Linked DNA regions of Homo sapiens: region 1 is linked to region 2. Evidence: fine-mapped expression QTL. A gene starts in region 2. The other region holds a variant in brackets. All regions are shown on one strand. Distances are from middle to middle.

The links. PIP is the estimated chance that this variant, and not a neighbour inherited with it, causes the effect.
Region 1: its variant is the best candidate, but not a certain one, in a credible set for the expression of DHX8 in sun-exposed skin (GTEx, PIP 0.87).

What each region holds. Positions count from the first base shown.
Region 1 is chr17:42,694,834-42,699,067 of GRCh38, reverse strand. It overlaps CNTNAP1 (contactin associated protein 1), which reads right to left. Exons shown (of 24, transcript NM_003632.3): 19 at 3,194-3,547; 20 at 2,916-3,043; 21 at 1,701-1,794; 22 at 1,269-1,514; 23 at 1,118-1,165; 24 at 1-450. The coding sequence ends at 158. Among named protein-coding and RNA genes, the nearest start is that of MIR6780A, 11 kb to the left of the region's middle. RefSeq lists an enhancer at 1-365 and a cis regulatory region at 1-365. The variant C/G (reference allele first, on the strand shown) is at 2,250.
Region 2 is chr17:43,481,981-43,486,214 of GRCh38, reverse strand. DHX8 (DEAH-box helicase 8) reads right to left here and starts at 2,240. Exons shown (of 23, transcript NM_004941.3): 1 at 2,030-2,240. The coding sequence starts at 2,177. RefSeq lists enhancers at 1,976-2,405, 1,705-2,547.

The sequences.
Region 1 (4,234 bases), 790 kb after region 2:
TAGCTCTGCCCACCAAACTTGATGGGGGGGGGATGGGGGAATATCCTCTGGATGAGCAGAGCCAGCTAAGAGGAGCCAAATGTCCCTGATAGGATGGGGGAGAGGCAGGACTGGGGGAATGTCAGGAGCTGGAATTGGTCCCAGAAGCCCTTCTGACTCATTCAGACCTGGACTCCTCCAGGATCTGGGGTAGGTTCTGATCCCGGGGGCCAGGGGCTGGGGCTGGAGTTGGGGCTGGGGCTGGGGCTGAGGCTGGAGCTTGGTTGGGAGCTGCTGTAGGGGTGGGGACCTGGGCAGGGCCTGAAGTGGGTAGGGGAGGTTTGCTGCCAGGATGGTACTCGTGGGCAGCCTTGGGCTCATTGGTATGGTAGGAGCCCTTATAGCGATGATTTTGCAGATAGAAGAGCACCAACATTCCCACCAGCCCCAGCAGCAGAAAGGCCACCAAAACTGAAAAGAAGAAAAGGGACAATTCAGATCTTTGGGATCTCACCTGTATACACACACACACACACACACACACACACACACACGCACTCTTTGAGATTTCACCTGTATACATACACACACTTTGGGATTTCACCTGCACACACACACACACACACACACACACACACACACATTTACTTTTGGCCAAAAGCATAATGTATGACCCTCAGTTAGCTGTTCGACCACACTAAACTCATCTCAAGTGTCTGGCAGGTTTGAATTCCTGGCTTACCCCCTGCCACCTTCTGTTTCTAATATTCTCTTTCCACATCCCTGGTAGTTACCCCAATTTCTTATCTCTCTAGGTGTTACTGTATCCCCATTTTCCCATCCCTTAGCTATAGTCTCATTTTAATATTTTATTTAAAAATCTGTAGCATCCTCAAACATCTAAAAATCTCTGCCCAGTTATATGTCACCTTCAGCATAGCCTGTCTCATCCTCAAACATCTAAAAATCTCTGCCCAGTTATATGGCACCTTCAGCATAGCCTGTCTCATCATCCTTTGTGCCATTGTGCATCTAGTGCCTTTGCCATCCTGCAGCCTTGGGGATCAGGGGCAGGGAAAGGATGCTGACAGTCAGAGGGTAGTCTTGGGAGGTCAGCTTAGTGATCAGTGCTACTCACAGCCTAAAAGTATGGCAACCCATCCTTCATCATGGTAGTAGGGGAAGTCTGGAGAGGAGAAAGCACCAGTTAGGAGATGCCTCCTCCATGTTAAGAATCATTCCCTTCCGTGTCATCCCTCCCTTCTGTCCTCTGTGTCCTGGGAATGTACCTGGGGGCAGATACCAGGGATCAAGCTCAGGTGGCACCTCTGAAACAAGACGTGGCATAGCTCCGCAATTAGATTCGGACAGTTCTCCCTGAACTCGAAGGGCCTCAGCTAGCTCAGCAGTCATGGGTCGAGGGGTTCGGAAGTGGGTCTTGAGGGGAGCCACGTTGTTGAATCGAACACCAGACAGGCAGCCTGAGAAACCTGGGGTGTTGTAGCGCTGGATCTCCGGGTCAATGACTCCTGTCTCTGAGAGAGAGGCAGGCCCAGAAAGAGGGACTTGGACCCAAAGGCCCTGCCACTCTCACTGTCCACAGGTTTCCCACTCATCCTTCCCACTGCCCTCAGCCATTCCCAGGGCCTTCACTTTCCTTGAGGATCCAGGAACATATGCCACAGCTCCTTGCCTAAAACGCGTCCGCACCCGCAGCTTACCCATCACACGCCCTAAATACAAGGCCTTGGGTGAGTCCAACTGGCTGTCCACCAACAGCGAGAACTTCTGCTCTGTCAGTGGGAAGTAGTCCACCTGAGGTGGGGAGGGGGAGGGGGAGGGCGATGAGGGAGCGGGGACCAGAAGCAGATGCCTGTGGGCTGGACTGGAACTGTGTGGACCCTGGGAATATACTTGGGGGCAGATACTGGAGATCTCTCATTCTGTCCAAACTGGCGGTGCCAGCTGGGTGAGTCCTAGCTCAATCTGAAGTGGGCAACCCCTGGGCCTAGATGTAGGATTTGGTATATATATTTTTATTATTATTATTTTATTTTATTTATTAAATATTTTTCTTTGTGAAGATGAGGTCTTGCTATGTTGCTCAGGTTGGTCTCAAACTCCTGGCCTCAAGCAGTCCTCCCACTTCAGCCTCCCAAAGTGTTGGGATTACAGGTGTGAGCCGCTGCACCTGGCCTATATATTTTTTAAAACCCTGGTTTTAAGCCCCATCTTTGCAGCTTACCAGCGGTTTGACTTTGGGTAAACCA[C/G]TTTATTTTTTTGAGATGGAGTCTCACTCTGTCGCCTAGGCCTGGAGTGCAGTGGCACGATCTCAGCTCACTGCAACCTCCACCTCCCAGGTTCAAGCAATTTTCCTGCCTCACCCTCCTGAGTAGCTGAAACCGCTTTACTTTCTGAGGCTCTTTACTGATTTGTAAAACACTTAAATAAGAATGCCTATTGTCTGGCTGGGCGCGGTGGCTCACGCTTATAATCCCAGCACTTTGGGAGGCTGAGGTAGGCGGATCATCTGAGGTCGGGTGTTCGAGACCAGCCTGACCAACATGGAGAACTCCTGTCTCTACTAAAAATACAAAATTAGCTGGGCGTTGTGGCGCATGCCTGTAATCTCAGCTGCTCGGGAGGCTGAGGCAGAAGAATTGCTTGAACCCGGGAGGCAGAGGTTGCAGTGAGCTGAGATCACACCATTGCACTCCAGCCTGGGCAACAAGAGCAAAATTCCATCTCAAAAAAAAAAAAAAAATGCCTATTGTCCCCTTGGAGCTATTGTGAGGGTTACATGAGGTGACACACGTGAAAATCCTCTATACATTCAAATGTGATCTACAAATATTAAGTATTTGATGTTTTCCTGGATGCCACAACGGAGACCATGAGGTTATGATCTGAACTGGCTCACCTCCCTCTATGCATACCTGGATGAAGAGGTTCCGGTAAACACGGGTGATATTGATGCTATGGGGCTGGCCATCGGTCACTGGTCGAGTGGTTAGCTGGTACACGTAGGGACTGGTGCCCAGCTGATATCGCAGCTGAAGGGTCCCTGTGGGGTGGGGAGAAGAAATTTGGGGTCTCAGGCCCCATGACTCCTATCTTCTAACAGCACGTGGGTCCTTGTATTTGTGAATCAATAGGAGAATTAGGGGCACCGGGGTGAAGCTGGAGTGGGGTGAGAGAGCCCGGGAGAGCTTACCATCATCCTTGATGAGCACAGCCATGTAGTCACGAACAAAGGAACTGACGTAGAGCAGGACAGCAGGGGCGGAGCTGGTGCTGAAGCTGAAGGAGACCTCCTCTCCCGTAACGTTGTAGACAGGCCCACGGTAACCGGGCACAGGCCGACCAGGCCGGGGGTAGTCGGGCAGGCGGTACCCGGGGCCATGGTAGCCAGGCACATAGCCCGGAGTATCATAGCCCGGGATGTAGCCAGGCTCATAGCCTGGCACTGGCCGGCTCAGCATGTGGGAGAACTCCCTGGCTGCAGAGCGCAGCGCTGACTGTAGGTTATAGCGCATCCAGGTGCCCGGCTCAAAGAAACCACCAATATCTGCAGGTAGAAGCAGGGAGGTTAGGGCCCCCACACTGCTCACTCCCCAATTCAGAGGTTTTATGTCATCCATACACACATCCTGAGACTTACTTCAGTTTCTGCCACCCTCACAACCCTCCATTTACTTTTAGGTCCCCTTGAGCCCCTCTGTCACAGAACAGAATCTTACAGCCATGGGAAACTGGAGATCATCTGATCCAACCCCTGCATTTTACAAATGGGGAAACAGGCTCAGAGATGAGTAGTGACTTGCTTAAAGACACGCAGTAAGGCCAGGCACAGTGGCTCACACCTGTAATCCCAGCACTTTGGGAGGCCAAGGCAGGCAGATCATCTTGAGGTCAGGAGTTCGAGAACAGCCTGGCCAACATGGCAAAACCCCATCTCTACTAAAAATACAAAACTTAGCTAGGTGTGGTAGTGCATGCCTGTAATCCCAGCTACTATAGGAAAGCCAAGGCAGGAGAATTGCTTGAGCCCAGGGGGCAGAGGTTGCAGTGAGCCAAGATCATGCCACTGCACTCCAGCCTGGGTGATGGGGATATCCTGACCCCATGTAGTATATGTGCCACTACTCACACTTCCAAACCACCACCAGAAATCTGTTGGTCCCTAAGTCTTGTATCTCCCTAGTCCCCCACACTCCTCCCACCAGTAACCCACCTGCTCATATATCCTCCCTAT
Region 2 (4,234 bases):
TAGTACTTTTTTTTTTTTTTTTTGAAATAAAGTCTTGCTCTTTTCGTCCAGGCTGGAGTGCAGTGATGTGATTTCAGCTCACTGAAACCTCCGTCTCCTGAGTTCAAGCGATTCTCCTGCCTCAGCCTCCTGCATAGCACCAGTCACCATGGCCAGCTAATTTTTGTATTTTTTTTTTTTAGTAGAAATGGCGTTTCGCCATGTTGGCCAGGCTGGTCTCAAACTCCTGACCTCAGGGGATCGGCCTGTCTTGGCCTTCCAAAGTGCTGGGATTACAGGCGTGAGCCACCAAACCCAGCCAATGTTAGTACTTTTAATGTTACTGGTTTTATAATTCTGTATGTAACAGAAAAAGCATATTTGTGGGTTTTCTGCAAATTAATTGAGATCTTTAGCTATAAATAAACTAAAAGATTATGAAGTTTATACTTCGCTCTATTTTTGTACACAAATGAAGTTAACATCAAAACAATTAAACACTGGGGGTTAATGTCAATAACTTTTTTGTTTCTTCTAAAAGGCCAAGGTATTAGGAGTTAAAATGAAAACAGAGAGAAAGGTAAGCTCCCTGAAAGCAGAAATCTGTCTTGTTCTCTGTGGTATGCCTAGCCCCCAGCTCAATATTTGCTGAATAAAGGAAACATATTAACGAGATAGCAAAACCGACGAAATTATCACCTCATTATCAACTAAAAGAGAAGAATCCTGCGGGAAAAGTTATATAGGACAGACACATCTTGGCTGGGAGGCAAGAGAAAAAAGTAAACTAAAATATACTGGCTGCAGGGCATCTTCCTAAATGCTATATGGTGACCCTGTGAAGACATCGTCCCACTTCACAGATGAGAAAAACAGCTTCAGAGAAACTATGAATCTTACCAAAGGTCACTCGTCTAACTTCCCTAACCCCTCCTGTCACCTGCCCCTTCCCTTCCATCCCTCCGGTTGATGACTTTATCTTCATTTAGGAAACTGAAGAGTGGGCTGGAACTCTCTCACTCATCTTCCCACCACCAATCTCTAAACTCATCTGAATCTGCAACTGTATTCTCTGTCCTCGCTCCTGTTACAACTGAAGAAGCCTTGCTGTACGTACCAAAGGTCAATCCATCCATTGGTTGCCCTTGATCCCATCCATCCTCTGTACCTTCATAAAGGCTCCATCTGTCTATGGCTTTAGCTTTAGGACCCTAGCCTTTTCTAATTCCTCAGTTTCGGCTCCCCAGATGTAGTTTGCCCCAAAACATCTAGTGACTGGTGTTTAAGACATAGTACAGGACGCAATGGCTCACGCCTGTAATCCCAACACTTTGGGAGGCCGAGGGAAGAGGACTGCTTGAGCCCAGAAGTTCGAGACCAGCCTGGGCAATACAGTGAGACCCCCGTCTCTACAAAAAATTTAAAAATGAGTCGAGCTTGGTGGCGCCCGCCTGTAGTCCCAGCTACTCGGGAGGCTGAGGTGGGAGGACTGCTTGAGCCCAGGAGGTGGAGGCTGCAGTGAGCCGAGATCGTGCCACTGCACTCCAGCCCGGGAAACAGAGCGAGGCCCTGCCTCAAAAAAGAGTACAGGATGAACGGTCAAAGAACACAGTTAAAAGCACAGACGCTAACTACTATGTCACAGAGTGGCGTGAAGACCAAATAAAATAATGTCAATAAAGAGCTGAGCATCGCATCTAGCACATAGTGAGCACCCAATAAACGTCAGCCATCATCGTCGTCATCGCAGCATCTGCTGCTGTTGTTGTTAAACATGTTTAATTGAGGCTGAAAAAACAAACAAAAAACAATCAAGCAGAGATGACCGCCCCGGGCTTCACTGACAGCTCTGGGAAAGTTTCTAAAGTTTCTCGAGGGCTCTCAAGCCGAGGCCACGGCAGCGTGTACCCTGGGCACCGGTGTCTGCGACAGAGAGAGACAGATTCACACGAACATACTTTCGGTCCATCAACCACCTTTCTCCTTCCTCCTTCCTCCTTCCGCTTCCCTCAATCCCAAACTGAGGTCCCAGGGACCTCCCCGAGCTCACCAAGGTCCTTGTCGTTGATCCCCAAGTGATTGTCCAGCTCAGTGCAAACCTTTGACACCAAAGACAGGTACTCGAGTTTGGCAAGTTCTTCCGCGGGGCCTGGCTCCGACCCGATTAAGGCTCCCGCCATGGCTACAGCCACAGCCATGGCTATAGCTTGCCCAGAACCTCCTTCCTCACAGCCGGCGCTCAGAGCTACTCCGGCCGGGTTCCAGCTTTCACTTCCGGGTCAGCGCGCGTCCCCTTTGTTTACGGTAAATTGAAAATTTGAGGAACGAATCAAGTCCCAACAGGATGGATCATAGAGATCAAACAGGAAGTGCTTAAGGAAGGGACAACTAGAGTGGGTTACTCTGCACGCCGATCTGCGCCCTCTACAGGCGAGAAAAATCTCCGCCCGCCCTCAGGCCTGGAAACGTTCACTCAGCGCGCTCCCGCCCTGGGTCGGCAGAGGGCGACCCCGGCCTGCACAAGAGGCGCCGGGAGGCAACCGCAAAACAGCCTGCGCCTGCGCTTTAGAACACTTGAAAAAGGAATCTTAATGCACGTCTGGAAAAAGACAAACTTGCTTTACTGTGGATCCGCAAATTCCCGGCCTCACTTCTTTGTGGTTCCTGTCGTCCGATCTCAAGTGACCCTTGACAAGCCAGTAGGCAGTAGATTGCCTTCTCTTGTTTTACACACGAAGAAACTGGCACTTCCACTGCCAGCTGGCTGCTTGGGCAAATCAATCTCTGGGGCCTTAGTTTTCTCATCTGTAAACTAGAATAATGTTGCTCTACCCTAAATGGAATAACTGCAAGGAGTGTGACACAGAGTAGGCACACCGCAAATGACAGTTACTGTTAATATCACAAGGCTAGGCCGGGTGCAGTGGCTCACGCCTGTAATGCCAGCACTTTGGGAGGCCGAGGCTGGTGGATCACTTGAGGTCAGGAGTTCCAGACCAGCCTGGCCAACGTGGCGAAACTCCATCTCTACTAAAAATAGAAAACTTAGCCGGGCGTGGTGGTGGTGGGCGCCTGTAGTCCCAGCTACTCGGGAGGCTGAGGCACAAGAATCGCTTGAACCCAGGAGGCAGAGGTTGGAGTGACCTGAGTTCACACCACTACACTCCAGCATGGGCGACAGAGTGAGACTTTGTCTCAAAAAAAAAAAAAAAAAAATTCAAGGCTGAGATGATGGTCACAGAACTGGCCTCTGGTCTGTCAAGCACAGATCCCCTTAGTCTGGGAACCCACAGAGCCAGCTGCCTCCACTCTTGTGAAAACCTGCTTTTCAATCCCCAGTTTTCCTGTGTCCTCTCAGAACTTATTCCCCCAGGGGCTGGGCACTGTGGCTCACCCCTGTAATCCCAGCACTTTGGGAGGCCGAGACGGGCGGATCACTTGAGGTCAGGAGTTCAAGACCACTCTGGCCAACATGGTGAAACCTCGTCTGTACTAAAAATACAAAAATTAGCTGGGCGTGATGGTATGTGCCTGTAGTCCCAGCTACTAGGGAGGCTGAGGCGGGAGAATTGCTTGAACCTGGGAGGTGGATGTTGCAGTGAGCTGAGATCTCGCCACTGCACTCTAGCCTGTGCGACAGAGTGAGACTCCGTCTCAAACAAACAAAACACACACACAAAAACAACAACAAACCTTATTCCCCCAAATATCAGCTGTGCTGTAAGTCCAAGGTCATAAGCTCAGGTCTCCCAACTTCTGCTTCAGGTCTTTTTTACCTTTGTGGCAACCTTAATGTGGGATGGGGATTTTTCCCACACTCCAGTGCTCTGTGTGATGAGTAAGGAAACAGAAGCACCCTAAAGTGAATGGCTCTCCAATCAATCGGAAGGAGGAAATCAGTCTCCCACTTTTCACTTTGGCAACATTTTTACACTGGTGTACCTTTGGACTCTGTTTCTTCAACATCTCATCATGGACTGAAAAATGACAGGCAGAGAAAAACCCAGCCATTGTTCTCACTGTCTCCAGAAGCTCCAGGTTTCCAGGTTCCTAAGGAATCACTACTAAACCCTCTGAGTTCTTCCTACCCCTCCCCATTTCGCTTCCTCTTTCTCCCCATGAATAGAATGGAAAACTCTGCACTTGATCCAATGTGCTCAATTTGCCAGCTTGGAGTTACGATTTCAAGGGCTTATTCTATCTGATGTTCATTCTCTGTGCTTCTTTCTCTTTAAAAATTAATATTACTATTCTG